Linked DNA regions of Homo sapiens. The protein of the gene in region 3 purifies or fractionates together with the protein of the main gene of each other region. This does not show direct contact. Each region holds a gene or a part of one and is shown on either strand. Other genes may lie near its edges.

Region 1 (4,282 bases), on a different chromosome or scaffold from region 3:
GCTGCTCGGAAACTGTTTGTGATCTGGCCCCACCCCCTAGTTTCAGCTCTGTTCTATTTGGTGATTGTTGAAACTGTTTGGATGGCTTATGAGCCTTTTTCAAAATAAAGTTTTATATCAAATCTCACCTTGGCCCCCACCAGTGCAGAAATCCTGGATAAAATTAGATATAGCTGTTGGAATCCCCAGGGAGCAAGCAATGAGGGCTTTTTTTGTCATGCTAAAACCCGTCAGTGGGGCAACAGGAAAGCTTTTGAAGAGTTATCAACAGGGGAGTGATACGATCAGATTGCAGTTTAGAAAGATCTTACTAGCTGCTATGTAAGAGTAGATACCCAGTGGGGGAGAGGTTCATTCAAGAGGCCCGGGGACCAGTTAGGAAGCTGCTATAGCTATCCAGGTGCGTGATGATGGTGGCCTGAATTACAATTGCGGCATGGAGAAAGAAATGGGTCTTGCTCCCATTTAAGCATCATTGATTAGATGGGGAGAGTGATAGGGAAGAAGCCAAGGATGCCGTCTGGGTTGTGGCTTGGTCAGCAAGCCAGATGATACAGCCACCCAATGGGACATGGGAGGAAGAGCAGACTCATGGGAGGGAGAGGGCAACCTCAGCTATAGACATGTTCTACAGATAGGGATGACCTGGAGGCTGTTGAAGAGAGCAGGAGAGAAGTCTGGGCCTGAGATATGGACTTGGGATTCATTGTAATTAGATGGCAAGTGAAGGTCCTAGGAGAGGAAGCCCAGAATGTGTGAGAGCAAATGTCTTTGACCTTGTCTTCATGGAGAAGTGTCCATGAACCCCTTGAAATGATACACACAATTTTGTACATAGGTAGAAATGTACATTTTTCTATGGAAAGAGTAAGTCCGTAGCTTTCATTGAATTCTCTGAAAGATCAAGGACCCAAAAGAGTTTACTGAGAAGAAGGCCAAGAGTTTACTGAGAAGAAGTACACTTGGGGTACTCCAACTTTACAGGACAGGCAGAGAAAAAAAGACTGAAAAGGAACAGTCAGAGAGGTGGGATGAAGACGAGCACACTGTAGTTTACGCCAAAACAGTTACATCATTATTGCAGAGCCAGCATAAGCTACAGGACAATTTGATTTAGGGATAATACAAGGAGAAACAAGTTAGGATGGAGACAGAAAACAGACAGGACTTGTCAGAAACAGTGTTATTAATGCCTTAAAAACAGTAATAACCCCTACTACAGCAGTGACATGGGAAATACAAATAGGTAGAATATCCTGGATTACAATTTCCCAAAGGAAAACTAGGCATCTGAGAGTTTAAGTGCATTTTGCATGGGTTGACCACTGTCTAGCACCATATTCTCTTCTCTTCCACCACCAAGAGCCCCCAGCTTATGCTAACTCTCATGACAAACACAATTTTAGTACCTCTCACTACCAACTATCCAGGAACCAGGAATCACCTATTACTACAGTTCCAGCAGAATGGGAATCCCATTCTCGGATATCCAGGGTAAATCCCTGACCATGTGAGAGGAATCCTAGTGCCCCAACAACCTCACCCCCTGACTCCTCCTCAAAGGCTCTGCCAAGTCAACAAAAAAATCCTCTACATTTACACTATCTGTAAAGCCAAAGACCAGCGTCAACCTAAATGTCCATCAATAAGGGAATGGTTGGATAAGTAAAAATTATGCAGCTGTAGGAAGGAATGAAGAATGTCTATATATTCCTCCAGATTAATCTCTAAGATATTCAGAGAAAACAAGCAAGATGGAGAAAACATATATACTTGTTACCATTTTTCATGGATTCATATATACACACACATGTTTACATTTAAACAAAATGGAAAGACAAATCATATTTTTTAGTGGTTGCCTATATGCAGAGTGAAGGAATAGTGTGGAAGAGGTAAGTAGAGAGCTACATTTCTTTGAATATAATGTTTCTTTATAAATTTGATTTTAGAACCAATAAATATTTTACACAGTCATAAAACAAAATTTAAATAGCAATATGTCCCTAAAAAAAACAAAAGAAAAATGAGGCAAATGAATTTGGTTATGTATCCAATTGGTAGCATAACCACACAGAGAGAAACTATTCCATCTGACTATAAAACAATTAATTTGACAATACATCCTTAGTAGGACATACCTTAAGGTCATACATAAATGCAGATCTGCATATATATGTGTGTGTGTGTGTAATGTTCAGCAATTATATTATTGGTTTAAATATTGGAATCAATATTCTGAGACTGCTTTATGTGCATCAAATGAGTAATTATGTTGGTATTATTGAAGAGCAAGATTTTGTAACATGGTTGAAAGAAAATAGAAATGTAGGCCAATGAAGTTAAGTCAAAAGTCAGTAGTTGGTTCTAAGTATGAACTGGATGCATCAGTATAAATTCATGGTGTAGTGTATCTTTAAAACAAGCAAAAAATATTTTCTACCTCTGTCCACAGAAAGTGCTCCAAAACAATGACTAACAGCAAAATTAGCACCTCTAGCACCCATATTATGTTCTCTAAAGACCATTGCCCACTAAAAGGAATTAGGAGTCCTGGGAGAAATAAGTGATTCCAGGTCTGGAGCATAAAATGTATAAATATATTTACATATTACAAAGTAAGGAAGCTATCAAATACTATTAGGATTATGTCAAAAGGACTCAGGATCCAACCTGAATATGTTACCACTGGTCAAAGATGGGACAATTTTACCTATAATGGATTATAACAAATAAAATATGTTTAAAATCTTAAGTTCATAAACATATTTTTTAAAACCTTAGTCACCTTCAGAAGATGCTAGAGAAACATCACACTATATTTTTATTTATTTATTTGAAATAATTTTAAACTTAGAGAAAAGTGCAGAAATTATGCAGAGAATTGTACTCACTGTGCCCTAATATTAACATATTATATTACTATAGCAGAATTACGAAAATCAGAAAATTACCATTGGTGTAATACTGTTAACTAATCTACAGACTTTATTTTAATTTCTCCAGTTTTCCCACCTATGTCTCTTTTTTTTTTTTTTTTTTTTTCTGAGACAGAGTCTCACTCTGTTGCCCAAACTGGAGTGCAGTGGTGCCATCTCGGCTCACTGCAGCCTCCTTCTCCCGGGCTCAAGCAATTCTCCTGCCTCAGCGTCCTGAGTAACTGGGATTACAGGCATGTGCCACCATGCCTGGCTAATTTTTGTATTTTTAGTAGAGACAGGGCTTCACCAAGTTGGCCAGGCTGTTCTCCAGCGCCTGACCTCAGGTAATCCGCCCGCCTCAGCCTCCCAAAGTGCTGGGATTACAGGCGTGAGCCACCACGCCCGGCCCCCAACCTATGTCTCTTTACCAGGGATCCAATCCAAGATCCCTCATTGCATTTAATTGTTGTGTTTTCTCAGTATCCTTCAATCTGTGACAGTTCCTCAGTTTCTTTGTCTTTCATGAGCTTGACACTTTCAAAAAATCCAAGCCAGTGATTTTGTAAATGTCACTCAATTTCAGTTGGATCTTTTCTCATGATAAGATCCACATATGCATACATTTTTTAGCAAGAATACCACTAAAGTAATGTTGTGCCCTTCTTGGCGCATCATATCGGGGGAAATTGAGGCCAGTACGTCTTATTACTTGTAATGTTATCTGTGATTATATAGTTAAGGTAGTGTCTGCCATTTTTTTCACTGTAAAGTTACTGTTTTTCCCTTTGTAATATACTAATAAGTAATATTGTTGGGGAGATACTTGGAGATTATCTCCTCAACAAGAGAAATAGGATATTTGAGATTATGTAAATATCCTACTTCTCATCATACTTTTGCCCACTAATTTTAGCATCAATTGACAGTTCGTCCTTATAACCATAACTGTGAAGTGTGCCCAATGATTATTTCCCCTTTCCCTCTACATTTACTCATTGGAATTCTGCTCTAAGGAAGAGCTTACCTTCTCCTCTGTTTACTTATTTATTCAATTTTTATATTAGTATAGATATTTATTTTTTCTTTAGGTTATAACCTAATAATGTCATTATTTTTTTGCTCAAGTTTTCCTAGATTTGGTCATTACGGGTTCCTTCAAGTTGCTTCCTGTGTCCTCTAGACGCATGAAAATATCCTTTCATTTTTTGAACACTTCCTTACTTTCTGACACCACATAATCCTCCAGGCTTATCTGGCATATTTTGCATCCCAGCCCTGGAATCAGCCATTTCTCTAAGGATCCATGGTTCTTTTTATGAGAGAATGGTGTTTAGAAACCAATTCCTTGATGCCATGTGTCT
Region 2 (4,282 bases), on a different chromosome or scaffold from region 3:
CTGTGGCCCCCACAAGCAACCCTACCCCAGAGGATGGCAGAAATCTTTCCCAGAGCATGCAGGTCCCACCCGTCATATAGCAGGGACCCAGGCCTCCCAGGGGTCTCAGACGGAAGCAGTCAGCAGGCAGGACAAGAGCCCAGGTTTGTTTTAATACTCTGGGCAAAAACACAACCCTCCCTCCTCTCATATCCAGAGCAGGAGCTGGGTCCAAGGCAAGGTCTACCCACCCACTTGTGAGGCACTCACTGTCACAGGCATAGGGCTTATCCCGGTCCTCCAGGATGGAAGCATCCAGCTTCTTACGGGCACTGCCCACACCCTTACCCTGCCAAGAAGAGCAAAGAGACACCCTTATTTTGGTAGCTGGGCCTGAGGAGTTAGACTCTTTTGGAAGTGGCCGCTAATCTCACTTGAAATAAAATAAGGAATTCCCTAGGCCACCCTGTCCCAAGATGCAGGCAGCACGCTGGCCCCTCACCTTGGATTTCCCCTTTCCCCGACGCTTGGGAGTATCTTCTTCATAGTCTTCATCATCGAGGTCATCCAGGAAGTCATCTGGTTCTAGGATCCGCTGAGTGGACAGGAGGGTTAGCATGGGTAGAAATATGTGCATCCAAAAGCTCCCCTATGATGAGACTGGCCAAGGCCACCCAGAACCTCCTCTGTGACGTGGTCCCACCCACACCAGCCTCATTCCTCACCAACGCCTTTCAAGCATGCTATAATCCTGCTCCTGCTCCCTTCCATACTTTGGGATATCTTTCCCCTGTGCTTCACGTTATTTCCTTAGCCTGAAATGCTTTCCCCACCATGCCACATGGCCAAATCAAATAGCATGCTTCCAAAAGGTTGCCCTGATGCCACAAGCAGCCATGCCCTCTCCTGCCTCTGATTGGCCACCCTGGGAGCACATTATTGGTGGTTCTGTCCTGACACTCGCCTCCTAGTTTAAATTAAAATGTTGTTGCTTATTTGTGTGACCTTGTGGGAAGCTTTTTTTTTTTTTTTTTTTTTTTGAGACAGAGTTTCGCTCTTGTTGCCCAGGCTGGAGTGCAATGGCGCAATACTGGCTTACCGCAACCTCCGTCTCCTGGGTTCAAGCGATCCTCCTGCCTCAGCCTCCCAAGTAGGTGGAATTACAGGCATGCGCCACCACACCTGATTAATTTTGGATTTTTAGTAGAGACGGGGTTTCTTCATCTTGGTCAGGCTGGTCTCGAACTCCCGACCTCAGGTGATCCAACTGCCTCGGCCTCCCAAAGTGCTGGGATTACAGGCGTCAGCCACCGTGGCCGGCCATGGGAAGTTTTTTTTTTTTTTTTGAGATGGAGTCTCGTTCTGTCACCTAGGCTGGAGTGCAGTGGCGCAATCTCGGCTCACTGCAAGCTCTGCCTCCCGGGTTTGCGCCTGAGTAGCTGGGACTGCAGGTGCCCACCACCACGCCTGGCTAATTTTTTTTGTATTTTTAGTAGAGACGGGGTTTCACCATGTTAGCCAGGATGGTCTCGATCTCCTGACCTCAAGATCCGCCTGCCTCGGCCTCCCAAAGTGCTGGGATTACAGGCGTGAGCTACCGTGCCCGACCCATGGGAAGTTTTTAAACTGCTTTGTTTCAGCCTCTGTGTGAAATGGGGAACACAGGACCTACCCCATAAGGTTGTACAGACTAAAGGAGAAAGGGCATGAAAAGGCACTTAACCCAATGCTGGCATATTTATAGCTGTTATTTTTACATGTATTCTTATCTTCTCTGTTGGCAGAGACTAAGTGTGCTTCACTGTGTAACCTCAGGGACCAAAAAACTGTGACACAAACTTTTGTGATAAAAGAGTAAAGCACTTAGGGATAAAAGTTTGTTTCCCTCCCTTCCCAGACAGGGTCTCCCTCTGTTACCCAGGCTGGAGTGCAGAGGCATAAGCAGAGCTACAGCTTCAATCTCCTGGGCTCAAGCAATCCTCCCACCTCAGCCTCCTGAGTAGCTGGGACTGCAGGCGTGTGCCACCATGCCCAGCTAATTTTTTATTTTTATTTTTAGTAGAGACAAGGTCCTGCTATGTTGCCTAGACTGAAAAGTTTTTGAAGTTTCCTCTCAAATAGTTTAGCAAAGACAGATAAGGCAAATGTGGCAAAATGTGGAATTGATAAATCTAGGTAAAGAGTATGTGGTATTTCATTGTACTATTCTTGCACCTTCTGGTTTTAATTTTTTTTTTTTGTTGCCCAGGCTGGAGTGCAGTGGCATGATCATGACTCATTGCAGTCTCGAACTCATAGGCTCAAGTGATTCTCCCACCTCAGCTTCCCTAGTAGCTGGGACAACAGGCGCATGCTGCTATGCCTGGCTATTTTTTTTTAATTATTATTTTTTTGTAGAGATGGGGTCTCACTTTGTTGCCCAGGCTGGTCTCGAACTCCTGGACTTGAGCAATCCTCCTGCCTTGGCCTCCCAAAGTGCTGGGATTACAGGCATGAGCCACTGCATCTGGCCTATTTTAATTTTTTTAATGAAAATTATATATGTGTATAATAATAACCTTCTGTGATAAAAGTGAATGAATGAGAGTCTATAGTTAGAAGCAACAGAGAAGCCAGTCAGTACCTGACAATAATCAGGGACTGAAGTAAGAACAGAACTGCAGGGGCCTGCTTCCTGGACTCCAGCTTCTGTTTCAGTTCTAGAAACTAGGTGGCCCCCAGTGAAGAGGAGGCTGATTTCCATCAAAGCTCCCTTAGCCACAGGGATAATCCTGTACCTTTCGCGCTCGACTGTTGGTCACAGGAAACTCGCCCAGGCTGTCATCATCAACTCGGGGATCCGGGGCACCTCGCTTCTCCAGGGGGTCAGTGCGCAACAGAGCCTCTAAACTACTGCCATCCTGAGAGATCAGCCCCTCCTTCTTCAGGGTCTGGTCTGTGTCTGCAAGCAAGGTCAGGATAAAGCAAGGCTCAAAAGGGCTGAAAGCAGACTGCTCTGAGTCCACATAATGCTGGGGCTTACCAAAGGTCTGTCACTATCTTTTGTTCTCTGCACGCCCAGGAATTAAGACACCCTAGTTCACTTGGCACCATAACTTATCTGTTTACCTGTCTCCCCTTCTAGACTGAGGTCCTTAAAGGAAAGAATCACATCATATTCATTTGAGTATATTTGGGATCTAGTACTGGGCCTGGTATATCACAGTGATTAGCAGGCTCTCACCATGCAGCAGGCCACGCCTCTGCTCAGGAAGTATGTGCCTTACCTGGCTTAATAGATGGGAAGGAAAGTCGTGGATCCTCAGGGGGATGGGCTCGCCGCTTTTTCCGCCAGCGCCGGGCAGGGTAGGAGTACAGCTGTCCGGAGGCCAATCCTGTGGCAGGAAGAAAGATAGAAGTCAGGCCCTAACCCAGTATTAGAAAGTAATACCAAACACTTTCTAATTAAGTAGGCCCCCCTTTGAGTTCTAGAGCAAGGGAGAAATTCTGACAGTGAGGGCCTAGGGGGTTAGGTGGAATAGTCTGTGGAAAAGAAAAATAGATATATAAGCTTCAGGGCCTTGGCTAACACATAGTTCTCCAGACACACAATGGCCTCAGCAGGGCAGAAAACAAAGATGCTGGTATCAAACATCTGCTTCATCCTCCCTGGGTTTCTAATCACAGGAAGACCATATTCATCCATAGGTGGAAGGCAGTAGGGAAAACCCTATCAACTGTCTCATCACCTAAGATGAGGAGGCTTCTTCCTCCTTATGCTCCTGAGTCCCCTTCTCCCAAGTCTGGACCCTCACCTGGACCCCGGTGTCGCTTTTCCATCCAGATGTAACAATTGCTCTGGGCTACTCCGGTCTGTGAGTCCAAGAAAGGCAGGCGCACGCTGCGCTCAGCACAGAGGCGAGCATTGTAATTGTGGCACTGCTCCATGGCATCTTTGTAGTACTGCTCCCCAAGGCTGCAGGGAAGATAGAAATCAGGCGTGTATGTTGGAGCGGGGGGCATAGGGTGCTGAGCTATTCCTCTCCCCTGCCATCTGCTTCTCTAGAAGGCTCAAGGGACTGGGTGGCTGTCTCTTCCGTTCTATTTGCCTCCACTTCTGCCTCATGGGACACGAAGCCCCTTTTCTAGGCCATCATGAGGAATTACTTTACAAATAAATTACCATCAGGAACACATGATTTCATCATATGTCTAATCAGACTTAAGTTTAACCCCCAAAGAGGTGAAAGAATGTTCACTCCACGTGTCTCACAAGCCCACCCCTGTGCTAGTTAAGATGCTATTTCTCTTAACCCTTATGAGG
Region 3 (4,120 bases):
ATCACAGATTACAATACAGTGTGAAAAGTACCGTCAGACATATGCACAAGTTGTTATGGGGACACAAAAAGGTTGCACAATTCAGCCTAGCTTGAGGTGGGGTCTGGAGAATCAGGAAATACAAGAGGAAGAAATGTTTGAGCACTGTCATGAAAAGGGAATAGAAACTGTATAGGAGTTAGGTGAATGAAAAGAATGGGAGTGGAGAGAGCAGGAGGGGATGAGGAGAAATCCGTGCATGCACAGAGGAGCCTGTGCAAGGGCCACAGAGGAAGAGAGAAGATGCTTCGTTTGAAAAACTAAAAATTACTTGCTATGGCCTATCTAAAAGACTATATAACTATTAAGAGGGATTATCACCCAGGTTGAAGGAAGGGTAGGATTATAGAAGTACTTTCCAAGCACTTAAAAATTATTTACAATGATCAGCTGTTACTGGGAGAAACATTTTTTTTCAATTTTGAAAAACATAACACGTTTATTATAAACAATTTTACAATAGAGAAAAATGTCAAGAATATTTTTTAAAGTACTGTATTCCTATTACCCAAAGATAACCACTGTTAAAGTGTTAGTATATAACTTTCCAGATTTGTGATGTATGCATACATATAGTTAGTTATATGCTCTTTGTAACAAGCGAAATTAGAGAAAAATGTATTTTAAAGTTAAAAACTTTTTTTCTAACCTCCAGTCCAACCCCACTTCCCAGAGATAATTAATGTTGAGTCTGCTATATATCCTCTCTCATTCTGTTCTCCAAGATTATAGAAACATACAAACATATGCAAACACACACATACACACAAATACGGGATCATAGAAAACATTACTCCTACAACTTTACATGCCCTTTTGTCATTGGCCATCATCATAGATCCATAGGTAGAAACAGATTCAGTTACAGTACAATGTCATGTAATACGTAGCAACGCTGGACTCAACCTGAGATTTGTCTGATTTATCTTGTGGGTCTCAGAAAGTCATTCAAGGTTTTCTTGTTTTTGTGTTTGTTTGTTTGAGACAGAGTCTCACTCTGTCACCCAGGCTACAGTGCAGTGGTGCGATCTCGGCTCACTGCAACCTCCGCCTCGTGGGTTCAAGCGATTCTCCTGCCTCAGCCTCCCGAGTAGCTGGGACTACATGCGCGTGCCACCACATCTGGCTAATTTTTTGTAATTTTAGTAGAGACGGGGTTTCACCCTGTTAGCCAGGATGGTCTCGATCTTCTGACCTCGTGATCCGCCCATCTCGGTCTCCCAAAGTACTGGGATTACAGGCATGAGCCACCGCGCCCGGCCGAAGGTTTTAAGAGACATATTCATATCCCTCTGATGGAAGATCTCTGATATTTCATGTTTTGGTAAAAAGGTGTATTTATGCTACTCCTAACTCTCTTTCTCCCACAGTTGCTTCAAGATTCAAGGCGTTTCAGTAGGGGAGGAGTGGGAGAAGGGGTGATGGGAGGAGTGTGGGGAAAGAGGAGCTAAGGGAGGAAAGGCAGGCCAGGATTTGTTAGGGTGTCTGGGATGTTTAGTCCTGAGCAAACAGGGGATAAGCTCCGCTCCTGGCTCCACCCTCTTCCTCCAAGGGCAACTGAGGGGTTGGGGCTGTTTCCTGCTCTAGAATATTCCAGTTGGGGGCGAAACTCCCCTGGCATGGCACAAACCATTATGATGGGGAGGGATAAGTCTTCAACTTGTTCACAAATACTTTTTTTGGTCCTAAGTCCTTCCGGACCACTCCTGTTTCTTTCAGCCTTCAAGGTCTCCCGACCATGTGGCAGGTTCCCTTTTGTCCCAGTGGAATGGCAGAGGCCTTCCTCACTCACTCCCTTTCACCCCTACAGTCTCTGGAAATTGGAACAGTCCCAGAGTAAAATCCTCATGGGTTGGCCCTGAGGCTTCTTTTCCCGCAGAGCCCTAGGAGGGAAAGAGGCCACCCTCTCTTCAGGCGTGTTAAGCAGCGGGGTTGGCCTGTACTTCCTCTGGCCCTGGCTGAAGAGGTGAGGCCTGGTGGGAGATGTCCTAGGGTAGGACAAGCCGGTCAGAGGGTCATTAGGAGGGTCTTGTCAGAGGTGGGAGGGCGGAGAAGACAGATGAGGGGAGGGGCTAAGGAGGAGGAAAGAAACCTATTGGCTGCTCCATCCACACAGGGCTAGTGAAACCGTTAAGCCCCTAGGCGATCATGGCCTTGAGACCTGAGGACCCCAGTAGTGGGTTCCGGCACGGAAACGTGGTGGCCTTCATCATCGAGAAAATGGCCAGGCACACGAAAGGCCCCGAGTTCTACTTCGAGAATATATCCTTATCCTGGGAGGAGGTGGAAGACAAGCTCAGGGCCATCCTGGAGGACAGCGAGGTGCCCAGCGAGGTCAAAGAGGCCTGCACCTGGGGCAGCCTGGCCTTGGGTGTGCGCTTTGCCCACAGGCAGGGGCAGTTACAAAACCGCAGGGTGCAGTGGCTGCAAGGCTTTGCCAAACTGCACAGATCAGCTGCGCTGGTCTTGGCCTCAAACCTGACGGAACTCAAGGAACAGCAGGAGATGGAATGCAATGAGGCGACCTTCCAGTTGCAGCTAACCGAGACCAGCCTTGCGGAGGTGCAGAGAGAGCGGGACATGCTGAGATGGAAGCTCTTCCATGCCGTAAGATCCCCCGAATGGTCCCTGTCCAATGCCTCTGCCCTGCCCCAACCTGTCCGGACCCCCTGCCCTGTCCCCAGAATGTGTTTCAGCTCTGCCTACTTCTCTCCAGGAGCTGGCACCTCCCCAGGGACAGGGCCAGGCTACAGTGTTTCCAGGCCTGGCCACTGCCGGAGGGGATTGGACAGAAGGAGCAGGTGAGCAGGAAAAGGAGGCGGTGGCTGCTGCTGGTGCTGCTGGAGGAAAAGGAGAGGAGAGGTATGCAGAGGCAGGGCCTGCCCCCGCAGAGGTCTTGCAGGGGCTGGGAGGAGGCTTCAGGCAGCCCCTCGGAGCTATTGTAGCAGGCAAATTACACCTTTGCGGGGCAGAGGGAGAAAGATCTCAGGTCAGTACAAACAGCCATGTCTGTCTTCTCTGGGCTTGGGTCCACAGTCTCACTGGAGCCTCTTCCTGTCCAGCTCCCTACCTCATTCACATACTCATACCCATGCCCTTTGTCCGCCTTCTCAGCCATACCCAATATACCCCCTTCACCAGCAAAGGTCACAGAACGGGTTCCAACTCAGATGCCTTTCAACTGGGGGGCCTCTGATGCTAGCCTGTGGTCAGATGTGGAGGCCCAGGGAATAGACCCTCAAGAGCCCCCAAGAGACAGGAGAGACTCCGAACTCCATCAGCAGAGAAGACCTCCAGTATATCGCAGGCCAGGGAACTGGGACTGCCCGTGGTGTAAAGCTGTGAATTTTTCATGGAGGGAAAATTGCTTCCTCTGTGGGAGGCGAATCTGGCTGCAAAAGCCTCAGTAAATTCAGAAATGTAAAATAGAACAGAAATATATCTCAATGGGAAATCAATCTTCAGGGGGAGAGGGGAGAGGTGGGAGGGGGATTGGGTGGAGTGGGGGAAAGGGGATGAGTGGGAAGATTGGACAGTAGGGGGGCGGGGAGGCGGGGTTGTGGGTGGGAGGATGTAGATGACAGGCAGGGAGAGACATGTTTTAATGACTCCATTTGTATTTCAGAGTATTAGTAGTCAACACTCCAGAACTACTGCAGTTTTTATTTGTGTGTGTGTCTCTAGCTCCCTATCTTAAGTATCTGTCGGACCTGGGCAGTATGTAACACCTACACTCTCTCCCTTCATGTAGGCTTTAGATAATTGGAGCAGGAGTGGATATTTGACCAATCCTGAGCCAAATGAATTTTTACGTTAGAAAATCTGAACAGACAGGCAGATTCCACAGTCAGAATAGTGTTGGGCAATGAAGCAGTGGGTCACTTGGAGTTGGGGCCAGGGTCACAGCCATGGACACCAAGGCCATAGCTGAGGCCTGGCCCTGGCTGTGGGGGAACAGAACTGGATGCTTTACAGAGTCAAGTGTCTTTTAGAGGACGCCAGTATGAGGTTTCAGGGAGCAGACAGGCATAGAGGAGTTCATCCTGTGACTACAGAGAGATGGAGAGGGTAGTGATGGCCC
Region 4 (5,034 bases), on a different chromosome or scaffold from region 3:
CAAATTTGCCCCTAAACTTCCACAGGAGGCACTCTACCCTCTGGGCCAGAGCTGGGCACAGTGGCAAAGTCAGATTAGAATTTCTAGAGTTCTAACAGCGATTCCCAACCATTTCCTCAACTTTTCTTCTGTTTCCCACATCCCAAGGCAGGGAAATCCCTGCTGCCTCTCCTCATCTTCTAACTCAGCTGTAAGGCGGTTTAGGAGCCGCTGGCAGAATCAATGGCATCGACCAAGGGAGGGGGGGTGGCAAGGGATTTTCCTGTGCTTAACTACTGATCACGGCTAAGTGGAAATCCTATAAACACGAGCGGAAATCAATGGAGGCTGCTTAGCGGCCAGGGGAGAGGGGCGGCCCACAGATTGCATCTGACGGATGAGCGAGAGGAAGCAGCCAGGGAGGGCTCAAGGAAGAGTAGCTTAGAGGAGGGGGAAGAAACAGGCAGCGCTGGAGAGAGAGGAGTCACTGTCAGAAGGGACACTGAGGGGAGAGGCACAGTGGGCCCAGGAGTGGACTCCGTTAGACCCAGAGTTCCCTTCCCCTTCTAGGAAGTGACACCCCTAGCCCAGGCAGTGGTCAGGATCTTCAGTCTCCTGTGGCCTCTCTCTGGAGCTGTTCACTTCTAGCAGGCGCTGATAGTCTTGAGGCCGGAAACGCTGTAGATACACAATCAGCTTGGCTGGTGCTGTCTCCTGTGCAGGCACACCTACAGGTAAAAGGACAATGAGGAGAGAAATGGACAGAGCCACAAGCACTTGGACTCTGCTCCCTGCCCACCTAGCCAGGACTCCGTGGATGTTTCCAAAGCCACACTGGGGTTCTGAATGTCACCCACCCAGCTTCTGTAACACACTAGTCCACTCCCTGCCTGCCTGTGGAAGTGGGACCTAAAAGAGCAACTTCAGGCAAGAGTGGGACTAGAAGCCACACCTCAGCCTCTCTCCTCCAGCAAGGAGAAATGGCGAAGAGGCACCCAGGCACCAAGATAAACGAAGGATGCCTCAGCGTCAGCTCATTTCAGTTATTACCCTGTTCCGCAATCAAGATTAAAGCCCTAGACCAGGCCAAAGCTCATTAGCTTAGTAATGAAGCACATGCAGAGATGTACACATAGAAACCAAGAGCTATAGAAAGAAGAGGAGGGAAGCTATAGCCATGGGGTGGGATTCACATAGAATTCTCGCCTCTACATGGTGAGGTGAGAATGGAACTGCCTGTTGCCAGTGTCTTGTTGTTAGTGCCTGGCAGCATGCTGGGCACATAGCAAGGAACTCAGTGTATGTTTGCTGAGGGGGCTCAAACAGCACTGCAGGGCTGTAAGGCCCCATGGGATGCACAATTCCTAGTGTGGATGAACTGTCTACAAGGGAATTATGCTTAGGAACAAATCTGCCAAATCATGCCCCACTGTCTCACATAACTATAATGTTATTGTCCTTTACAAAAAGCCAAAAGGACAAATTAAAAGGATCTAGGTAATTGTAAAACAAAAGGACAAGACTGGTTGGACTCTCAGTGTAGTGGGCAGTGCATCAGTCTCATGATCTGAAGATCCTGGGTCTGAGCCTCCCAGAGGGCAGCTTTTGTAAAAAGGCTTACTTTTTACTCCTTGTGGAGGAGTGGTGACTGAAGAAGAAGAAAAAAAAGAGATTGGGGGAAGGAAGAGTCAAAGCAGGGAACTGAGAAATGAAACTGAAGGAGATCTGGCTATAGGTATGAGAACTAAATGAGGCAGGTTGGCTGGAATTAGACACGTGGAAGGACTAGATCCAAATTAGCTACTGTTAAAGAGAAAACGAGATTTCACAGAACTGTAAGCAAACTTAGAAAATTGCTAAAACAATTCCCATTACAAAAATAATCCAGGCCAGGCACAGAGGCTCACACCTGTAATCCCAGCACTTTGGAAGGCCGAGGCAGGCAAATTGCTTGAGTCCAGGAGTTCCAGACCAGCCTGGGCAACACGGCAAAACCTTGTCTCTATTAAAAAAAAAATTTTTAATCCGGAGGCCCTCCCCCACTGCATGGTCCAGCAGGTGCCTCCAAAAGAGAAAAGTGGGGAGCAGGAAAAGCACAAAAGGGCCTGTCTCCCTCACCAAGCATGCTGCTGAGCCTGTGGATCTTCTCTAGGGCAGTTGGTACTTCAGCCTCCTCATGCACCAGGGCCTCTACCTCACCCACAGCGTAGCCAAAGTCGGCTGTATCCAAGTCCACCCTGAGCTGTGGCTCCTCTTCATCAGCTCCCAAGAGCACCAGCTTCCAGGCACTCCGCTTAGTCACAAAACTAGCTACTTCCTGCAGCCCCAGTGGGCCCAGCACAGCAGCCACATCTCCAGCCCCCAGGCCGTCAGCCCGCAGCACCTTACAGAGTTGGGCCACAATTGTAGGTTCCGCTGTGAGTTCCTTATACTCCGTGTGGGGTCCTAAGACACCTGCTGCTCCAGGACATTTGAGCTCCCATCCACTATCCTCTCGTCGTCGCAGCCAGTGGTCAGCCTGCATGAGGCTCAGCTCAGGGGTGTCATAGTAGGTGTCTCGGAAGGTGACCCGGTACTCCAGGGTGCCCCCCAACTCCTGCAGCCGCTCCTCTGTGCCAGGCCCTGGAAGGAACTTTCGCTCCACCTCAATCAAGCCCTGGGCCATGCTACCTGCAATTGGCTGAACAAACGTTTGCTGAGTTCCCAAGGATGCAAAGCCTGGTGCTCAGCTCCTGGGGCGTCAACTCAGTACAGAACCCCTCCCTGGAAAAACTTATGAGGGGCACACTGTGTCGCAATAGTCTCTAGGGCTACTGCCCTTTTCTCTCTACCTCGGTGACATTAAGGCCCCGTCGGTGATATTTTAAGGCTCTGACAGTGACAGGTCTCCAGTAAAATCCCTTCCACTGCTGCTGATGTCCTCAATCCAAAGAGACCCCTAGAAAGCAGGCCGGGTAGCGGGTGTCCTTTCAACGCCCCCCTCTCTACACCTTGCCACCCCAGGAGGCTACTGGCTCACGACCCGGGAGGACCTGCCCTTTCCTGCTACACTACCGGCCAGCGGAACTTCAGGTCTCACCTCAAAGCCCGAGAGTCTCCTCGCGGGACCCACAGAGGGGGAAGGGAGCCCACGCCATACACTCGCGAGGAATGCCGGGAGCAGTTCCGGATCCCGGACCTCGGCCCGACCCTCCGCGCGCCCGGCAGGTCCCGGCACCAGCGGCCATATTACGCCCGTTGTGGCGGTGCCGAGAGCAGGCCAGGGCTCGAGACACGCGCTATGTAATGGGAGGCCGCGACCCCCGCGGTGGCCAGGGGAGCGAGGCCGCCCCTTGCATTCTGCTCCTCATTGTTGGCCCCGCACGGCTCCCGGGGGCTGGTACAGGTCTCATGCCTGAGGCTGAGCCAGGCACCCCGAGGCGCGGATGCATGATGGGAGATGTAGTTCCAAAGGGAGACTTTGCCATCTCGCCCCGCCCGTCGCTATGGCGACAGGAAAGCTGCACTTGGTGCCTGCGGTACTCTACCTAAAGCTGAACTGGGGCTACAAGGCGGCGGGGAGAGTCGGGTGCAAGGAGCTCAAGCCCCAGTCCCGTCTCCAACACCCCCCGCCGCACCCCCAACGCAGGCAGATGGGCCTGGAATACAAGCCATTCACACCGTCCAACAGATATCTGCTATAGCAGCCAGCTAAGCGCAGGCCAGTGGCAATGGTGGCGAGGGGGGTTGGGGTGGGGGGAGGGAAGGGGGCGGGGGCAGCGCGTAATAAAGTCCAGTTTAGCTACTCTGGAGTTTTAGAGGGGATCTAATACCTCCTGGCATGAACGTTGAGGGTAAGAGTGGGTGAGAAACTTTCTGTCAGAGAATAAAGTGGTATTTTGGCCAGGAACTAAAGATATGATGGTATTTCAACAGTTGGAGACCTAGATGGAGACAGGAATAGCCTAAGCAAAGGCCCAGAAACTGGAGAGCACCTGGGTGGTACGTAAGGAGAAGACGAGGCTAGAAATGCAGTTGAGGGAAAAGCCTTGAGTGCTAGACTGAGGAGTTTGTCAGAGTTTCCAGCGGTCCCTAAGCAGTTTTTGTCAGGTGTAGAACTACTTATGTTCATTTAGAATACAGAAAGGCCGGTGCGGTTGCTCACACCTGCAATCCCAGCACTTTGGGAAGCCGAGGCAGGTGAATCACCTGAGGTCAGGAGTTCGAGACCAGCCTGGCCAACATGGAGAAACCCCCCCGGCCCGCCGTCTCTACTAAAAATGCAAAAATGAGCCGGGCATGGTGGCGCGTGCTTGTGTTCCCAGCTACTCCAGAGGCTGAGGCATGAGAATTGCTTGAACCTGGGAGGCAGAGGTTGCAGTGAGCTGAGATGGCGCCACTGCACTCCAGCCTGGGCGACAGAACGAGACTCCATCTGTCCCCAAAAAAATAAAATTCAGGAAAACATGGGGGTTGGCCCTTTGAATGCTTTGGGAGACAAAATATTAATAGAGATGATTCCTTCTTACTCCCTCTGAGGACTATGGTTATCTGGAGACTCTAACTATATGTCTGACCTTCCATGTGAGGAAGCTCCCTGAGGAACCGTGGCTCTTAACTCCTGGACTCCTTCCTATGATGGGTGAGAAGTGCCATGTTCTCAACACCTGCCCTCTCACCAGTATGTTTCTGGAAATACATGACCAGTGAGAGGTATTATAGGGAGAAGGACACTGGTTTAAAGACATGGCATTTTGGCCAGGTGTGTTGACTCACACTTGTAATCCTAGCACTTTGGGAGGTCGAGGCAGGAGGATCATTTGAGGCCAGGAGTTTGAGACCAGCCTGGGCAACATAGGAAGACCCTGTTTCTACAAAAAAAAAAAAAAAAAAATTTTAATTAGCCGGGTGTGGTAGTGCATGCCTGTGGTCCCAGCTGCTCAGGAGGTTGAGGCAGCGGGATAGCTTGAGCCCAGGAGGTCAAGGGCAGTGAGCTACGATCCTGCTACTGCCTGCACTCCAGCCTCGGCAACAGAGCAAGACCCTGTGCATAAATAAATAAACAAATGGCATCTT
Region 5 (4,282 bases), on a different chromosome or scaffold from region 3:
GCCTTTTTAAAAAATTAAATTATTTTGGCCAGGTGTGATGGCTCATGCCTGTAATCCCAGCGCTTTGGGAGGCTAAGGCGAGCAGATCACTTGAGTCCAGGAGTTTGAGACCAGCCTGGGGCAACAGGGTGAAACCCCATCTCTGCTAAAAATACAAAAATTAACCGGGCATGCTGGCACGTGCCTGTAATCCTAGCTACTTGGGAGGCTGAGGTGGGAGAATCGCTTGAACCTGGGAGGTGGAGGTTGCAGTGAGCCGAGATTGTGCCACTGCACTCCAGCCTGGGCAACAGAGTGAGACTCCATCTCAAAAAATACATAAATAAATAAACAAGCATGGAGGCTGGGCACGGTGGCTCACGCCTGTAATTCCAGCAGTTTGGGAGGCCAAAGCGGGTGGATCACCTGAGGTTAGGAGTTCAAGACCAGCCTGGCCAACATGGTGAAACCCCATCTCTACTAAAAATACAAAGAGTTAGCCAGGCGTGGTGTAGCACGCCTGTAGTCCCAGCTACTCGGGAGGCTGAGGCAGGAGAATCACTTGAACTTGGGAGGTGGAGGCTGCAGTGAGCCGAGATCTGACAGAGCAAGACTCCGTCTCAAAAGAAGAACATGGAGATAGTGTGGCAAAGGGTAACATGGAGTCAAATACTGACAGGGTTGAAAACAGGCCCAATGGTGATATATTTTTTAAAGCTTAGAGAAGGGATGACTAACTTTACCTCCTCCTGAGATAAAAATAAAAAATAAATAGGTCAGCATTATTTAAGGTGTGAGTGAGGAAAGATTTCCTCTAAGTGAGATGAGATTAGAGAAGTGGACATTTTCTTCCCTGAGGTCTTCAAGGTCTGGCCTCACCTTAGCTTTCACTGCGGCGGCGGCCAGGGCGGCGGCAGCAGCGGTGGAGAGGTTGCCCTCGCCAATGTCCCGCTCCACCTTTGTCTTCCTTTCCCCCTCAGACTCCACCACTTCCTTCAGCACTTCCTCCTGCCCTTCCTTTGGCTCCTTCTCCTTCTCAGGATCGACTGGGCCAGGACAAGGGTTGAGTTAGCCCCACAGCTTCACCTCTGTCCTGCACCCCCACCTACCCTTGTGGGAGGCTCACCTATTGGGTCTCCATCACTCTTCTCGGACTCCTTCTCACTGTCGCCTTCTTTCCCTTTCTCCTCATCCTTCTTGGGAGCCTCGCTGGTTTTCTCTTTTGCTTCCTCCTCTATAGCACCCCCTCCTTCTCGGGGTTCCTGAAATTCCAGTGATAGAAAAGGAGAGTTATCAGGGATTAGGGTGATTAGTTCTCACACAGAGGGGCCAGACGGGGAACTAAATTTATTCCTCTTACTTTGGAGGTGATCTGATTCTAGGAGACAACCCCGTCCAAAACCAGCCCTTGCCCACCTAAGCTGAACAAGGCCAACTTCCCCATCACCACAGTGCTGCACGCAGCCCCTGCAGCTTCCAGAAATCCCTCTATACCTTGGGCTCCTTCTTCTCATCTGTGGCCTGGCCTTCCACCCGAGCCTCGTCATTCCCGCTCTCCTCTGGGCCCATGAGAAAAGAAAGAAAACAGGAAATGTTTAATACACAGTCGTCTGTGTCTAACACTTTTCTTTTTTTTTAGAGACAGGGTCTTGCTGTGTTGCCCAGGTTGGTCTCAAACTCCTGGGCCCACGCAATCCTCCCACCTCAGCCTCCTGAGCAGCTTGGACTATGGGTGTGAGCCGTTGCACCCAGCTTCTCCATAACACCTGTTTTTTTTTGTTTTTTGTTTTTTTGTGACAGGGTCTCACTCTTGTCGCCCAGGCTGGAGTGCAGTAGCACAATCATGGCTCACTGCAGCCTTGACTTCCCAGGCTCAAGTGGTTCTCTCACCTCAGCCTCCTGTGTATCTGGGGCTACAGGCGCATGCCACCATGCCTGGCTAACTTTTTTGGTATTTTTTGTAGAGACGGGATTTTGCCATGTTGCCCAGACTGGTCTCAAACCATCTGCCCACCTCAGCCTCCCAAAGTACTGGGATTACAGGCATGAGCCACTGCACCCAGCCTTCACAAGACTTTTTTTTTTTTTTTTTTTTTTTTGAGAGACGAAGTCTTGCTCTGTTGCCCAGGCTGGAGTGCAGTGGCTTGATCTTGGCTCACTGCAACCTCTGGCACCCAGGTTTAAGTGATTCTCCTGCCTCAGCCTCTGAAGTAGCTGGGATTACAGGCACGTGCCACCACGCCCAGCTAATTTTTGTATATTTAGTAGAGACAGGGTTTCAGCATCTTGGCCAGGCTGGTCTTGAACTCCCGACCTCGTGATCCACCCACCTCGGCCTCCCAAAGTGCTGAGATTACAGGCATGAGCCACTGCGCCCGGCCTTCACAAGACTTTTCTAACAGCCCCTTCTACAAGCAAAGATTTTTCTACCCAAAATCTTCATGAGAGGACTAGTAGGGCTCCAGAGCCCCTGAGGTAAACTCATGGGGAAAATAAAAACCCTACCAATGTTCTCATTCATGTTGTGCTCTAATGCCAACTTGAGGCAGAAATGGCACAGGAGGCCAGGTAGCTCTGGATCTTGTGAAAGGCAAGAAATCTGGGAACCTGCCTGGCCTTACCAATCCGCTCAGGCTCATCAGAGGTGGTTCCTGCAATGCCACTGCTTTCCAGACCGAAGGCAGGGTCCGCCTTGCCTGTTACTTTGGCTGCTTCTTCCACTTTTCGAACATGGGCCTCCACCAAGGCCGTGGGTACCTCTTCCTTCATTTTGGAGAACTCCTCTGCAAGACCCAGAAAGAATGAGGCTGGGAGCGGCACAGTGGAACAGTTCTGGCAATCCCTGCAAAAGCTTACTCACAAGCCCATGTCTTCATCTAAGCTAGTATGGAGCCTAGACAGGTGCCTGAGCTGAGGCCCGCACAGACAAGGCCAGCAGGGCAGCCAAACTTGAGAGGATTCACAGTCTGAGTAACTAGCCCTTCAAAAGCAAACTAAGAAGGCCAGGTGGAACCACCCACCCCCATTACCTAGGGCTGACTTTGCAGCAGCAGAGGCGACTCGGGGATCGACGACAGAGGCCAGGAAGGCAACAGTGCTCATAACAGGGTTGCCCGACTGACTGAAGGGGATGGGTTGGTAGGCCAGGGGGCCTAGGGAGGCCTCTGAGTCCTCCAGGTATGGGTCTTCAATGGGAAGACGAAGAAAATGCAAGATGCACTCGTCCTGTGTGCGGCTTCCCACATGCTCGGACACTTTGTTCCAGTCATCTTTGTACATTTCCAGTGCCTGGTGGTAGTGGTGGAGACATAACTCCGCTTACTTAGCCACTTTTCTCGAAGGCTGACTCCCCCCATCCTACTAAGGGCAGCTGGTTTCAAAGTTCTCTATGTTCTGGTATTTGTGTACTCTGCTAGGTCCAAGGGGGATCTTGAAGTAGCACTAAGAAAGGATATGAAGTTAATGAAATGGCCCAAATCCCCAGCCTGGAGCTGGTCCTGAAGCTCACTGGAGCCTTGACCTCCTAGGCTCAAGCAATCCTCCCACTTAGCCTCCTGAGTAGCTGGGACCACAGGTGTGTGCCACCACACCTGGCTAATTTTTAAAATTTTTCGTAGAGACGGAGTCTCACTATGTTGCCCAGGTTCATCTCGAACTCCTGGACTCAAGTGATCCTCCTGCCTTGGCCTCCCAAAGTGCTGGGATTACAGGCGTGAGCCTCTACACGGAGCCCACTTCTGTTTTCAGAGAAAAACTCTCTTTTCTTTGCCCCAATTACCTCCAGGAGAAGCAGGGTTTCCTGTTCTGTCCACTCACGAGTGGCACTGGCTGCAGCCTTGCTCTGCAGGGGAAACACAGGCAGGTGAGAAGAAAGGAGCCTGTGACCTCTGAGGAGCGAACATTCTCTACCCCTAGAGTCGGCCCGCACCTCCTACCTTGGAGGGAACATTCTTTTTTGTGTACATGTCTGTGCGCAGCCCAAAGTTTTGCATGTCTGTTGGTTTCTCTTTGCCTTTGTCAGGAAAGTTGAGCATTTGTTGGGAAGCAGAGGTCTGCTATTTGTGGAGGGAAAGAAACAGGTGAGTACAAGTGACCACCGGGAGCCAGGGGCTGACAGAGAGAAAAAACAGACAGAAGGAGCTTCTTTCCCAAAGCCAGGGACACCCCTGGGTGGGACTTCCTCCCTTACTGCTGTAGTTCCTCTGCTCTCATGTCTCTTCTTCCCGGGCAGGGGCCCCCCAATAAAGGGGAAAATGAGCAGCCCAGCAGGGTCTGCACCCCACCTACCAGCTCTGGCTTGCCC

The links.
Region 1: the proteins of TEX13B (region 3) and DPF3 purify together in Homo sapiens (affinity purification with mass spectrometry; one large-scale study listed by BioGRID and IntAct). This does not show direct contact.
Region 2: the proteins of TEX13B (region 3) and DPF2 purify together in Homo sapiens (affinity purification with mass spectrometry; one large-scale study listed by BioGRID and IntAct). This does not show direct contact.
Region 4: the proteins of TEX13B (region 3) and THTPA purify together in Homo sapiens (affinity purification with mass spectrometry; one large-scale study listed by BioGRID and IntAct). This does not show direct contact.
Region 5: the proteins of TEX13B (region 3) and SMARCC2 purify together in Homo sapiens (affinity purification with mass spectrometry; one large-scale study listed by BioGRID and IntAct). This does not show direct contact.

What each region holds. Positions count from the first base shown.
Region 1 is NC_000014.9:72,621,310-72,625,591, forward strand, and holds part of DPF3 (zinc finger protein DPF3), read right to left. Parts: intron 1-4,282. UniProt on the Homo sapiens protein: Belongs to the neuron-specific chromatin remodeling complex (nBAF complex).
Region 2 is NC_000011.10:65,340,037-65,344,318, reverse strand, and holds part of DPF2 (zinc finger protein ubi-d4), read right to left. Parts: intron 3,935-4,282; coding exon 3,774-3,934; intron 3,354-3,773; coding exon 3,246-3,353; intron 2,921-3,245; coding exon 2,757-2,920; intron 575-2,756; coding exon 482-574; intron 329-481; coding exon 250-328; intron 1-249. UniProt on the Homo sapiens protein: Plays an active role in transcriptional regulation by binding modified histones H3 and H4. Is a negative regulator of myeloid differentiation of hematopoietic progenitor cells. Might also have a role in the development and maturation of lymphoid cells.
Region 3 is NC_000023.11:107,980,195-107,984,314, reverse strand, and holds TEX13B (testis-expressed protein 13B), read left to right. Parts: upstream 1-1,944; 5' UTR 1,945-2,005; intron 2,006-2,155; 5' UTR 2,156-2,187; coding exon 2,188-2,646; intron 2,647-2,755; coding exon 2,756-3,235; 3' UTR 3,236-3,451; downstream 3,452-4,120.
Region 4 is NC_000014.9:23,554,368-23,559,401, reverse strand, and holds the start of THTPA (thiamine-triphosphatase), read right to left. Parts: upstream 3,132-5,034; 5' UTR 2,645-3,131; coding exon 2,098-2,644; intron 708-2,097; coding exon 562-707; 3' UTR 1-561. UniProt on the Homo sapiens protein: Hydrolase highly specific for thiamine triphosphate (ThTP).
Region 5 is NC_000012.12:56,168,671-56,172,952, forward strand, and holds part of SMARCC2 (SWI/SNF complex subunit SMARCC2), read right to left. Parts: coding exon 4,267-4,282; intron 4,035-4,266; coding exon 3,915-4,034; intron 3,821-3,914; coding exon 3,758-3,820; intron 3,268-3,757; coding exon 3,009-3,267; intron 2,763-3,008; coding exon 2,601-2,762; intron 1,539-2,600; coding exon 1,474-1,538; intron 1,242-1,473; coding exon 1,106-1,241; intron 1,026-1,105; coding exon 859-1,025; intron 1-858. UniProt on the Homo sapiens protein: Involved in transcriptional activation and repression of select genes by chromatin remodeling (alteration of DNA-nucleosome topology).